Homo sapiens: one gene and its partner. The protein of the gene in region 2 interacts with the protein of the main gene of each other region in a biochemical or structural test. Each region holds a gene or a part of one and is shown on either strand. Other genes may lie near its edges.

The links.
Region 1: the proteins of CLOCK (region 2) and RXRA form a complex in vitro, tested with the Homo sapiens proteins (one study listed by BioGRID).

Annotation. Positions count from the first base shown.
Region 1 is NC_000009.12:134,329,455-134,336,486, forward strand, and holds part of RXRA (retinoic acid receptor RXR-alpha), read left to right. Parts: intron 1-7,032. UniProt on the Homo sapiens protein: Receptor for retinoic acid that acts as a transcription factor.
Region 2 is NC_000004.12:55,427,403-55,431,941, forward strand, and holds the end of CLOCK (circadian locomoter output cycles protein kaput), read right to left. Parts: 3' UTR 501-4,539; downstream 1-500. UniProt on the Homo sapiens protein: Transcriptional activator which forms a core component of the circadian clock.

The sequences.
Region 1 (7,032 bases), on a different chromosome or scaffold from region 2:
ATGGTGGCCCTGGCTTGCTAGCCTCCAACCTTGCCTAGGGCTGGCTGCTGGGCCTGGACCCGAGCATGCAGCTGTGACCCTCTGCCCAGATGTGGATGGGACGAGCTGGGCCCCTAGGAAGGGCTGGTGGGGGGCGGGTGCTCTGAGTCCCTTGGGGTGTGGGGTGCAGGTTGAGCCGGCAGCCCTGGTCACGCGGGCAGCTGCTGTGACTGGCTCCCGGCTCTGCCAGCACCTGGTGGTTCTTCCAGCTGTGCCTGTCCTTCAGGGCCTGTGGGGGGCTCACCTCCACCAGGAGGCCCCTCTGACTGCCCTCTCTTGGCCCCTGCCCCATCTCCCCCGTGGCTGTGTGGGAGGTCGCTGTCAGTGGTCTTTGTTTCCTCCCCTGGGAAAGGGTGCCTGCAGGATTTGCTGTGGAATTACTGTGGGAACAGGGGGTACTCAGGGGTGTGCCCCTCTGCCCCTGGGGCCTGGTCGTGCATGTGGCAGGGGGCTCTGGCATCAGGAGAGGGTGGGACAGACCTCAGCTGCATGGAAGGTGGTGTGGGGGCGGGGTGAAAGCTTTACAGGTCCACCCAGTGCCAGTGGAGGCTGCCTGGGGAGTTTCCTTTCTTGGGTGACGTTTGGTTTTGCCATGGGTCAAATGTTTCAGGGCTGGGACCTCGAGTGGTGAGCAATGCCTGTCCTCTGGAGAAGAGGGCACAGCTGTCCCAGCAGACACAGGGCAGAGGCCCTCCCCAACCCCCAGCTGGCTCAGGGCTGGGACACTGTCCCTGGGACCCGGGCTTTGCAAGCCAAGACCTGCCCCTCCTTCCCTTCTCTGCCAGGCTTGAGTTTGTGTTTTTTAGCTGGCTTTGGTGGCCAGGGCCTTGGGTTGGCCTGTTAACTGGTGTGTTTTCATAGGAATTGGCCATTTGCTGGGCTAGGGATGAGGCTGGGGTCTAGGGCCACAAGGGCCTGGGGGGCTGGCCTGTGGCTGTTGGGGGCTGGTGTCCATTTGGGGGTCACCTTCCAGACCTTTGTCCTGAGATTCTTAAGCTGATCAGTTTCAGGGTGCTATGGTGTGGGTAGAGGGGTCACCCTCCTCCCCCCTGCACCTTGCCCACCTGCCTGTATGTTTCCATTTTATAGGGTGCAGCTCTGTCTTTCATCCTTCCTTCCTCTCCTCTGCCCCCTCCCATTCAGGGCCTTTGTTACCTGCAGGATGGAGGTGGTGGTGGTTTTGCAGGGATCAGCACCTTCCCAGGAAGAGGTTCTGACAGGTGGTGTCCCATTGCTGGGCGGGTGGTCAGGCCACCTGGGGTTGGGCCTTCTGTCCTCGCTGCCTGCCTGGTCTGCTCTTTGGCCTCTTGGGGCTTTGGCTGTCCATCTGAAAAATGGACATACTCATTGGCTCTTCCAAATGCTGGAGAAGGCAGCCTGGTGTGTTGTAGGCTGGCTGGGAGTTTGGGGAGTCTGTTTGTGGGGCGTTTCCCCTATCCTGTGGCTAGGTCCTCTCTGTGCCTCCTGCCTGGGTCAGGTGGGGCCAGGTTTCCAGCACTGGACCAGAACAGGCCATGATGGTCGCTGGGGGCTGTCAGGTGTAGAGGAACAGACTCAGGAATAGAGGACATCGGGGACACTGAGGTAGCCCTTTCTGTGGATATAGGCCTGCCACAGGAGAGCGCTCGCTGCTGCTGGGTCCTTGGGACCAGCCCCTGTGCCACTCCAGGGACCCTCCTCAGAGTCCCAAGAAGGCAGGTGGGGCGAGGGACCGCGGTTTGCACACCCACCCGAGCCTGGTGCGAGATGTTCTGAGCAGTTGTGCCCCAGCGCCTCACAGACAGGGAAATTGCGCCCTAGAGTTACAAAGCAATTGTCTAGCTCAGCAGCTGAATGAGCGTGAAATGGAGCAGAAAGCAGCTAAGGAAAATTGGCCCGGCCGCTGTGGGGAGAGCGGGTGCGGACCGCGTGCAGGGCTTGGGTGTGTGCACGCTCACTGTTGCACACACACAGAGTCACAGGCTCTCACCTGGCGCTGTTGGCCGCTGGCCCGTGTCCTGGCGTGCCCGTGAGTGAGCCAGGCCTCATGGGGTCCCCCAAGGATCATGGTGCTCCCTGCTGGGTTTGTTGGCCTCCTTTTTTTCTAAATCTCCCCAACTTGTCCAGGACTCACCCTACCCCCACGAAGGTGCCGATGGCTGCAGCGGGTGCCTGCTGCGTGCCAGGGACTTTATTTTTGGGACCTTGTGGAGGTGTCACAGAGACAAGCCCACTTAGTGGATGGGGACACTGAACCCTGGGTGAGGTCTGTGGGCCAGCCTTTGTGTCCCGCTGTGGGGCCTGCTTTTTCTCCGGCACTTGACTGGCGGGGGCCGCCTTGAGCTCCAGCTGGGAGGACCTGTCCCCAGGGTGGGGGCTCTGCTGCCCCTGGTCCTCCTGCCTCTCAGCATCCTCAGAGGCTGCTCACCGACCAGGCTGGGTCTATGCCCCATGCTGGTTCCCAGGAGCCCCATTGCTGGTCTTGGCCCGAGTGAGTGAGGTTTTTGTTCAGTGGGGACCCTGGTGGAGGGCTGAGGTCTCACCATGCCAGCTCTGTGCCCTGGGACTGGGCATCTTGGCCTCTTGTGCTGGTTGAAGGCCCTCTAAGGAGTGGCGACCCCTTGATCCTCACTCCAGGGTTGTCCTTGGCTTGGGGTGGTGGCTAGGAGAAGTCCCCACTCCCAGGTGGAAAGCTGTAGTTGGGTGAGCAGCAGAGGCCCAGCCTGGAACTGTGGCTTGCCCACCTCCTCATGCCACCAGGGCAGCACTGTCTGCAGCAAATTCCTGAGGTACCTGGGGGAGTGGACGGAGTGAGATTGGACCCCCGGGTCCCAGGGCAGGGCAGGGTAGGGGCACAGTTCTTTCTGAGGTCCTAACCCAGCACACGCGGCCCACCCCATGCATGCAGGCGTCCGCCGCAGCCTTCCCAGGGTGACCTGGCAGAGCCTTGACAACCCTGGCTGGGGAGGCGGGGATTGCTGGTGGGCTTGTCCACACGTGGCTTAGGGAGCGCCCGCTGGGTGCTGGCCTGGTCCTGCTGCCTGTGGAGGAGGGGTGGGGGAGGGGTGCCCAGAGGTAGGGACAGCAAGGTCTGGCCTGGAGGGGGTGAAGAGGGTGAGGACGCAAGGGTGGGGTTGCAGGGCTGGAACCAGGAGGGGGTTCACGTGTGAGGTGAGGCTGGGTAGGGCCTGTGTGCCGGGCGTAGGTGCATGGGTGCCCGGAGACTGGGGGATCCCAGTGTGGTGCTCATGGCTGGAATGAGGCCACCAGTGCTGTGCAGAGGGTGGTCTGGAGGCAGCCAGGCAAGGCCTGGAAGGAGGAAGTGACTCTCTCCAGGTGGCTCACTGGTTTCAGGTGGGCCTTGGGGCCCCTGTGAATGGCCTTGCACCCTTGCCCTGGCTGGGCTCCTCAGCATGGCAGCCTGGGAAGGGGGGAGGATTCCTAGCATCTTCCTGGGGGCTTAGGCCAGGTCCCTGGGCTGGCCTGGGGGTCGTCTTTCCCGGGCACGGGTATGGGTGAGGCACCTTTTCCCTGGCCCTGGCTCCGGCCCCCCCTGCACTCCCCAGGCTCTGGATGAAGTAGGGGGCAGGCCGTCCAGGGGGAGTAGAGCAGCCGGGCCTCTTGGGGCCGGATCAGGGATGCTGAGACCATGGAGGGGACCAGACTTTGGGGCTGGGGAGTGGGACATTCAGGGGTCCTTCAGGGGATCAGAGCCTCTCAGGGTCTCTGTGTGAGAAGTTGCCACGGGGTCTGTCCTGCACAGCCCACATCTGTCTTTGATGATAGGCTTCAGCCCCAGCTCCTCTTCCAGGCACTGCCTGCTGGGGTGAGGGATGCCGGGAAGCCCTTGGTCACAGTCCTACCTCTGGGGTGACCCAGAGGCCGTGCCTGGCCTCCCCGCACCTCTGTTGGCCCTCTAAGCCATAGTAATTTCCAGCTGGGCCTCGGTTTCCCCAGCTGTACCCGGGGCCAGGGCTGGGGGTGATGGGTGTCGGCGCAGACTGCTGCCGTGCGTGCGGGGTCTGGAGCCTCTGGCGCTGAGGGGAGGGGAGAGTGAGTTGGGCCTGGGCCAGGCCGTGTGTAAATCCTCCAGCCGCCATGGATAAACCCTCGGAGTTCAAAGACAACCCCGGGTGCGGCCGCCGGCTGTAATGAGGTTACTGATTCAACAGGCTTCCTGGTGCTGCAGCCCAGAATGCAGTGAGGCTGGGAAGCCCCGGGGAGGGATCTAAGTATCCTGTAATTGACCAATTTAGCTTAAGTGTCCACACTGGCCCTGGGCAGAGGTCAGGCAGTGACAGCACAGGTGGCTGGAGTCGCTGGGGTGGGCTCCCAACAGCTGCTGTGTCCGAGCCCCTCTGAATCGGGCGCTCTCGGGCCTGGGCAGCCCTGTGCCTCTGCCGGGACTCCCGCTGCCTGCTCTTCCCTCTCCACCTGTGCAGGCTCAGCCTTCCTTCCCAGCCAGAGCCCACCTGCCATCCTTGGTGCCCAGCAGCCCCCTTGGTACAGGGCTTGGGGTGGGGCTGCAGCTTTGGACTTGGTGCCCAGAGCCTGCATTCAGCTCCCGCTGGCAAGCCTGCTGGGTCTGTGCCTGACTATTGCCCAGTTTCCTCCCGCCTGAGGGCCGTGGAGTGATCCCACGCCTGTGTTAGGTGTTGAGGCCGCTGCTGGTGGAGGTGCCTGGCGGATGGGAGCTCTCCACGTGCCAGCCACCCATCCAGCCTCTTTTTTCCCAGGCTTCCTGAGGGCAGGGCCCTTCTGAGGCGAGGGCATCCTTGCAGCACCCAGTACAGGTATGCAGGAAGGACTCGCTTGACTTAGAGAGTGGGATCAGAAGCACCTCTCCTGCCTGTCAGCAGTGGCTTCAGTGCCTGTGCTTGGGGAGGATGTATCTGGTACCTTGGAGAGAGGCTGGCAGGCCGCATCCAGCTCCTGGTTTCCTGTCAACCCAGGCCTGGTGTGCAGAGGGCCACCAAGGTGACAGTTTGCTCCTCAGAAATAGGACTGGGCATTGGGCAGCAGTGTCATTGACTGCCGCAGTGATAGCATGGGCTGTGGCGGTGGCAGTGTGTGCTGAGCCGTCCCTCGAACTCAGCTCTCTACATGGTGGGGCTGCTCTCTGACCAGGCTGCTGTGTAGCCCTGGGCAGGTCCCTTCCCCTCTGTGGGCTTCAGTTTCCCTGGGGCCCTCTGGCTGTCAAAGCCTCTGCCTTGCCTTCTTGGCACCCTGGCTTTGTTCTGATATGCTGTTGGCCATTGGTCAGGGTGGCACCCTGGGGACCAGCTCCCTGGGAAATGGCTCTATGCCCTCCCCAGCTGAGGGGACAGGACTTGGGCTGGGGTAGGGCCTGGGTTGCTGGCGTCCAGGAAGCCGTGGGCTCTGAGCTAGCCAGGGTGGGTGTGGGTCTGGATGTGGACTGGGCATGTTGTGGTGAAGCGCTTTCGGGATGTGCAGCTTATAATGGGGAAGAGGTGGCCTGGGGGCATGGCAGAGCAGAGGCAGTAGGGGCCACAGATGAGTGGGGTCAGTCCCCATGACGGTTATCACTCAAGGCCAGGCTAGTCCTTCTCTCTTTGGGCACTGACCTTCCTTGCCTGGAACCTTCCATGGCACCCCATTGTCCCCAGGATGGAGGCCAGGCCTCCACCTAGTGTCATGTGGCTCTGTAGCCTCTCCCACCTCATTAGGCACCTCTCACTGATTTTCTCATGTCTAAAACTAACTGGTGAGGTAGGCTGCCCCATGCGATGAGTGAGCGCCCCTCTGAGTCACAGGCTGTATGGCCCTGGGCTAGCAAATTCACCTCACTAGGCCTCAGTTGTCTCACCCATAAACTGCCTGGGGGAGGTCAGGGAAGCTTCACAGAGGAGGTGATGTAGTTGGGTTTTGAGGGATGAGTAGGAGTTTGTTGGGTGGGAAGTGGGGAAGGAATCAAGGCAGAGAGAATGGATGGATTCTTTCCAGGGGGATCTGGTTCTAGCCAAGGGTATGGGGAAGGGATGCCCGTGCGGGCGTAAGTAGGGGCTTCCCTGGAGGGTTTCTGAGGGTCTGACTGTGTGACCAGGCTCCTCTGGCCTGCCCCTTGCTGGCTGGCTTCCAGGTCTGTGCTGGTGGGGACCCCTGTGAGCATGAGGCTATGGTCAGCTGGCCTGGGAATAATTAACCCTGGGAGGAGCTCAGGCTAGGGGTGGGCCTCGCTGCAGCCTGGCCGCCCCCAGCTGGCCTGATGTCCCCTCTCCTTCCTGCCCAGGTCTGGAGTGTGACTCCTACCGGCGCCCATGTGCGGTACCCCACCTCGGGGCCCTGGCTCCCAGGGTGTGTCCACTACTGGGAGGAACGGCTGGGGCCCTTCCCTACCACCTATTCCTATACCCCTTGGTCTGTCCCTGTAGTGCCCTGTGGTCCTGCCTTGGTCCCTGCCTCTCCCTGTGGGCAGCTTAGGCGCCATTTGCCCGGGAGCCCCCTGTGTGAGTGCAAGGCTATTGGATGGCTTCTCGCCCTCTCCCCACCCGGAGGGAGGAAAACAGCTCTGACCGTGAGCAGAGTCCACGGGAGGCGGTGGAGCTGCCCCTACCCCACCCCTTCATGGACTTTCTGCCCAGGATCAAGGTCGAGGTGTAGGGCAGGGAGGCGGGGCCTTCGTCAGGGGTGCCAGGTCACTCTGGGCACAGACAGTGGCAAGGCGGGCCTGGCAGGCAGCACCACCGCACCATCCCGGGCCCAGTGGAGGGGTGAGGACTGGAAGGGCAGTGGGGCCTTCCTCTTCCCTCCCCTCAGTCTCCTGGGCACAAGGTCAGAGCCATCCACCCCTCTGTCCTGTGTGACCCACCTTCTCCTGAGGCTGGGATCACAGGGGGCGTCACCCCTTAGCGGCAACGTAGAGCTGGTCTCCAGGCCCCTGCAGACAGTGGGCCTGGGCAATGGCATGCTCACAGCCCGGGTCTTCTCTGCCACATGGACTTTGTGACTTGGAGCACGTTCCTTCTTCCCTCTTCGTCTTGATTTCCTCATTTG
Region 2 (4,539 bases):
CGCAATCTCGGCTCACTGCAACCTCTGCCTCCTGAGTTCAAGCAGTTCTCCTGCCTCAGCCTCCCAAGTTGCAGGGATTATAGGTGCCCGCCACCACGCCTGGCTAATTTTTTTGTATTTTCAGTAGAGACAGGGTTTTACCATGTTGGCCAGGCTGGTCTTGAACTCATGACCTTAGGTGATCCACCCACCTCAGCCTCCCAAAGTGCTAGGATTACAGGCGTGAGCCACCGCACCCAACCGTTTTTTCTAATAACAACAGAAAAGACAATTCCTCGTAGGGAGTAGCTGGCACCATCATCGTGTAACCTCAGTTCAGGTAGCTTGGTCCCATTACTAGCTTCATATGCGAATAAGAACAGCATCGCATTCTGAGGCACCACAATCTTGTAGCAGGACATAATTCCTCTGAGAATTTTTGGTAAGTCAGACCTAAGCTATAAGGTAAAAATCGCTACTGCAATAGGCTCCATTGTTGAATAAAAGAAAGGGAAATGTCATTGATAGTGATCTTAAAATATTTAATAGTCTTTCTTTAAAATCCAAAATGTGATTCTTACAAGTTATGTGCCACATGAAGCAGGTGTTATTTTTTGAGAAATGCAGGTGATAACTGAAAAACATAGCACTGAGGTATTTTTTATTTTTAAAATTGAAGGAAACAAAGTCTGGATCTAATTATTTTTACATTTACAAAAACTGCTACTGCTTGGCTCTTTTGCTATAAGTTTAGGTTCTGAATACATGACAAGAGTATGGGAAAGAGCAGAATAATAGTACACGCAGTTTTAAAAGCTATGCACATCATAACCTGGAATAATGATTACACAGCAAGAGGCCTGAGTGGAGGTAGGCTAACAACACATTTTGACTTTCTCCTCAAAGGATAGCTTTGAAAAACAAGTGTAACCAATTGTTACACCAAATTAAAATGGCAATATTAAATCGGTAACAAAACGATCCACATTTTATACAATATTGTATTTCCAAACATACATAGGTCATGAAAATCAGAGAACCTAATATAGCACCGTTGAAACCATTCATTATCCTTCATGTGTGTATGCAATTCAGAATTTCGGCAGAAGACAACAAATGGAAAATGCCTTTCGTTTCTATAAATCATTTTGGATTTCAATTAAATCTTTGCCTTAGTAAAGGGTATTCTTATCTCAAGATCAATTAGCCGTTTTTAGCTCCACCGTTTTGGAAGTAAAAATGATGAGCTACATCTACTTTTTAATTTAAAACCAAGAACCAAGCAGTAAGGACAGCAATGTCAAGAATATCACATTGAGAACCACACAGAACATTATAAAGAATTTGGTGCATGTTTTAACAACTACCAACTGATGTTAACAATGAAAAATTTACAAAGGTAAAACTTTTTTTTTTTTTTTGCACTGACTGGTTTCAATACAGCACTGAATTTAACTCATCTTTGGGCTTCAATCTTTACATAGAGTGAATATGAAAATGCCATACTGAGGCCTTCCCCAACTTAAACCATAGTAAAGATTTCAAAATCATTCCAGTATGGTCTGAATGGTAACTGTTCTGGCTGACACATCTTTTTTTTTTTTTTTTTTTTTAAAAAGACATTTCCTGGCCAATTTTTTTGCTTGAAGATGATTGTCTGGTTATACAAGACATCAATCTGAAGGTAACAACTTATTTTAACTTAACTACTGGCATAACCATTGCCAGCAGTGAACTTGCACTAGTCCAAGCCAACTCAAAAACACACATTATAAACATTTGAATGTCATTTTTAAAAGCGATGTCACAGTTTGTTTCCTAAGAAATTTAAAAGCTTTTATTTGAAAACGTATCTTCAGTTTAACCCTCAGAGTTAAGAAATATTTTTTAGATCATTAAATTCAATTGTGGTTGACGTGCTTTAACTACCGTTCTCTAAGTTGTGTGCTATACCTAGCCTGTGGGACTCCATAGCTTCTCTGAGTCCTAAAGTGGAGGATTCTGTTCCAATGCTTGTGAGCAAGAAGGATCCTCAAATGTCTAGGTTTCCAATATTCCAACACTGCTTTACTGGGCAGTGCTGTGTATGGAAGTTTTGTTTTGTTTTCAAAGGACCAAGTAACTTGACACCATATTAAAGACAGCAAACATTTTTTGTAGAAGTTTACAGCCTGTATACATTATTCCGCCAAATTTAAGAACTTTAAATGGATTTTAATATGGATATGATAATGACAGCCATTAAAAGATGCTATTTCTTTTACTAACATTTCCCCAAATGGGCAAAATAGAGGCATCATGTGCCATTGGTTCTGTCATACTGGCCTTTGACTGTGTTGGGGAAGTAATCACACAAAAAGTGCCCATAAAACAAAGAAGGCAGCAAGTGAAACTAGAAAAAGGTTGGAACTGTATGAATCAGATTTGAAAGGAGTTATTTCTAAAATTCTTTCTTAGATGACTTGAGGAGGGAAGTGCAGGGGCATCTGGAGTTGGCCCCTCCACTGCCGTCCTGAAGTAAAGTAGATTCAGACTGTCCGTAAAGATTATCATGAGAGTTGGTGACTGCACCCCAAATCAGAGCCAGTTCCCTAAGAAGAATATGGTGCAAAACAAAACAAACCACACATTAAATACATGACACCGAAATCACTTTGATGAGAAAACAGAACACACAGGTATTTTAAAATATAAATAAATACATTTAGCCATTTTTATTCAAGAACCCCAGAGAACTGCTTTAAAAGCAATTGCTTCTTTGAACCCCTTTCTAAATTCTTTCATAAATACTTACTAGTTTGATTGTCACTTAATGCAGCACCTCAGTGTTTGCTGGTGGTGGTGATGGAATTTCACTTAGTTGTCTCTCCATAAACTATATCCTATTCCACTAAATAATGTTTCCCTGAGGAAACCCAGGCAGCTTACAAAATACTGTTATAAACACTCACAACAAAACCTGCAGAGTATTTTATTTAAGAAAAACAAGGAATGTAGTGTTATGACATAGGGGGAAAAAACTATGCAAAACAGTCACATGGAAAGAAAGTATTTTAATTTTTAAAATCCAAGTTTGCTTAATTTCTTGTGAACTGTTCAACACTGTTTTAAATATCCTGAATAACTGTGCCAACAAAATTCATCCCCAGTGTTTCCACAGGAGACATTAAAATTAAAGACCAAATTATACTATTTTTTTCCTTTAACCAAAGTATTCTTTTTCTCAGTCCTTTTTGTGCAAAAATATTACAAGAGCAATTCAAATGGAAATGCTGAAATGACATGCCAACATTTCAGGGCACATTTAAAACACTCAGAATAATTCTTGAAATTATTATATTCTAAAATGTTACTAGCAATCACTTTTAGATTAGTTCTGTACATCTACTCACACGGATGCAATTTTCCTAGACCTCTGAAAAATAAACAGGCTCATTGGTCTCTTTTGGTGTCCACACAATAGGCAAGATAGGTTTACAATAGTGTTTAAATCAAACTAGGCATCTACAATCTCTTGACTCCACCACATTCAAAACAAAAATCAAAGTTCATTTGGCTATCTTGAAATCACTCCCATAAACCAACTACGGTTCACTGGACCTAAACATTTCTCAGAAATGTGTCATTTTATATAATTTCACCTAAGTAAGTGATGATTTGGGGATCCTTTAGAAATGGTTAACGCCTAAGAATAAACTTTATCAAAATGAGTAATTGCAATAAAGTGCTTGTTACATTTCAAAATGATGCTTTTAGACTGTGGTATGTTGTTTTAAAAGTGTGTGCTATTCCTTCCGTAAAGGATCCCCAGGCATGAGAGTTGGGTCTTCTCACCTGTCTCATAAAGCAGCAGCACTATCTTTTGGTAGGCTGACAATAGGCACATTACCCATGCGGATGAGGCTATACTAGTGCTATGGCAAAAGGGGAAGTAAATTAGAAAAGTGGGAGGCATGTAGAGGGTTCCTATTATAGTTATATACAAATATATTAAATATACTATAAAAATAGTCGATTCTATTCCTTTGCAATTACTTCAGAAGCTCCTTTTAGAAGAAAGCTCACCCAATCCAAACTTAAAAGGTTCTCTTTCTCCAAACACTTAAAATGGCAAGTGCCTTTGTGCTGTTTCTTCTCTACCATTCAAAAATTCCAATCAGCTTGTCCTGGCTAGAAAGACTCACTCAGCAACATTAATATCCAGTGTTTACCCCCTTCCAACAGGGACTCCTGTGGGACTAAGGGCCACAGGTAATTGGAAAGGTTATAGACTTGAATGCGTTTTACACAAATATTCATCAACAAACTTTCAATTACCAAAGAAACAGAAAGAAAAAAGCAGAAATACTAAAGTAAAATGCTATTTGCATTCCACTTTTAAAAAGTTTGCCTCAATGTAGTGGAAACATCTGAAAACATGTTGAGTAATATCCAGTTTAAAAGAATTTTCACTTGTCTGCGTAGAGTACTATTTTAAGGATCCCTTTCTAAGGCTTCCTGAACAAGGGTTCTTCTCCCTTCAACAGTGCTCTTGATGGAGCTGGACTGCTTCAGTGCTCC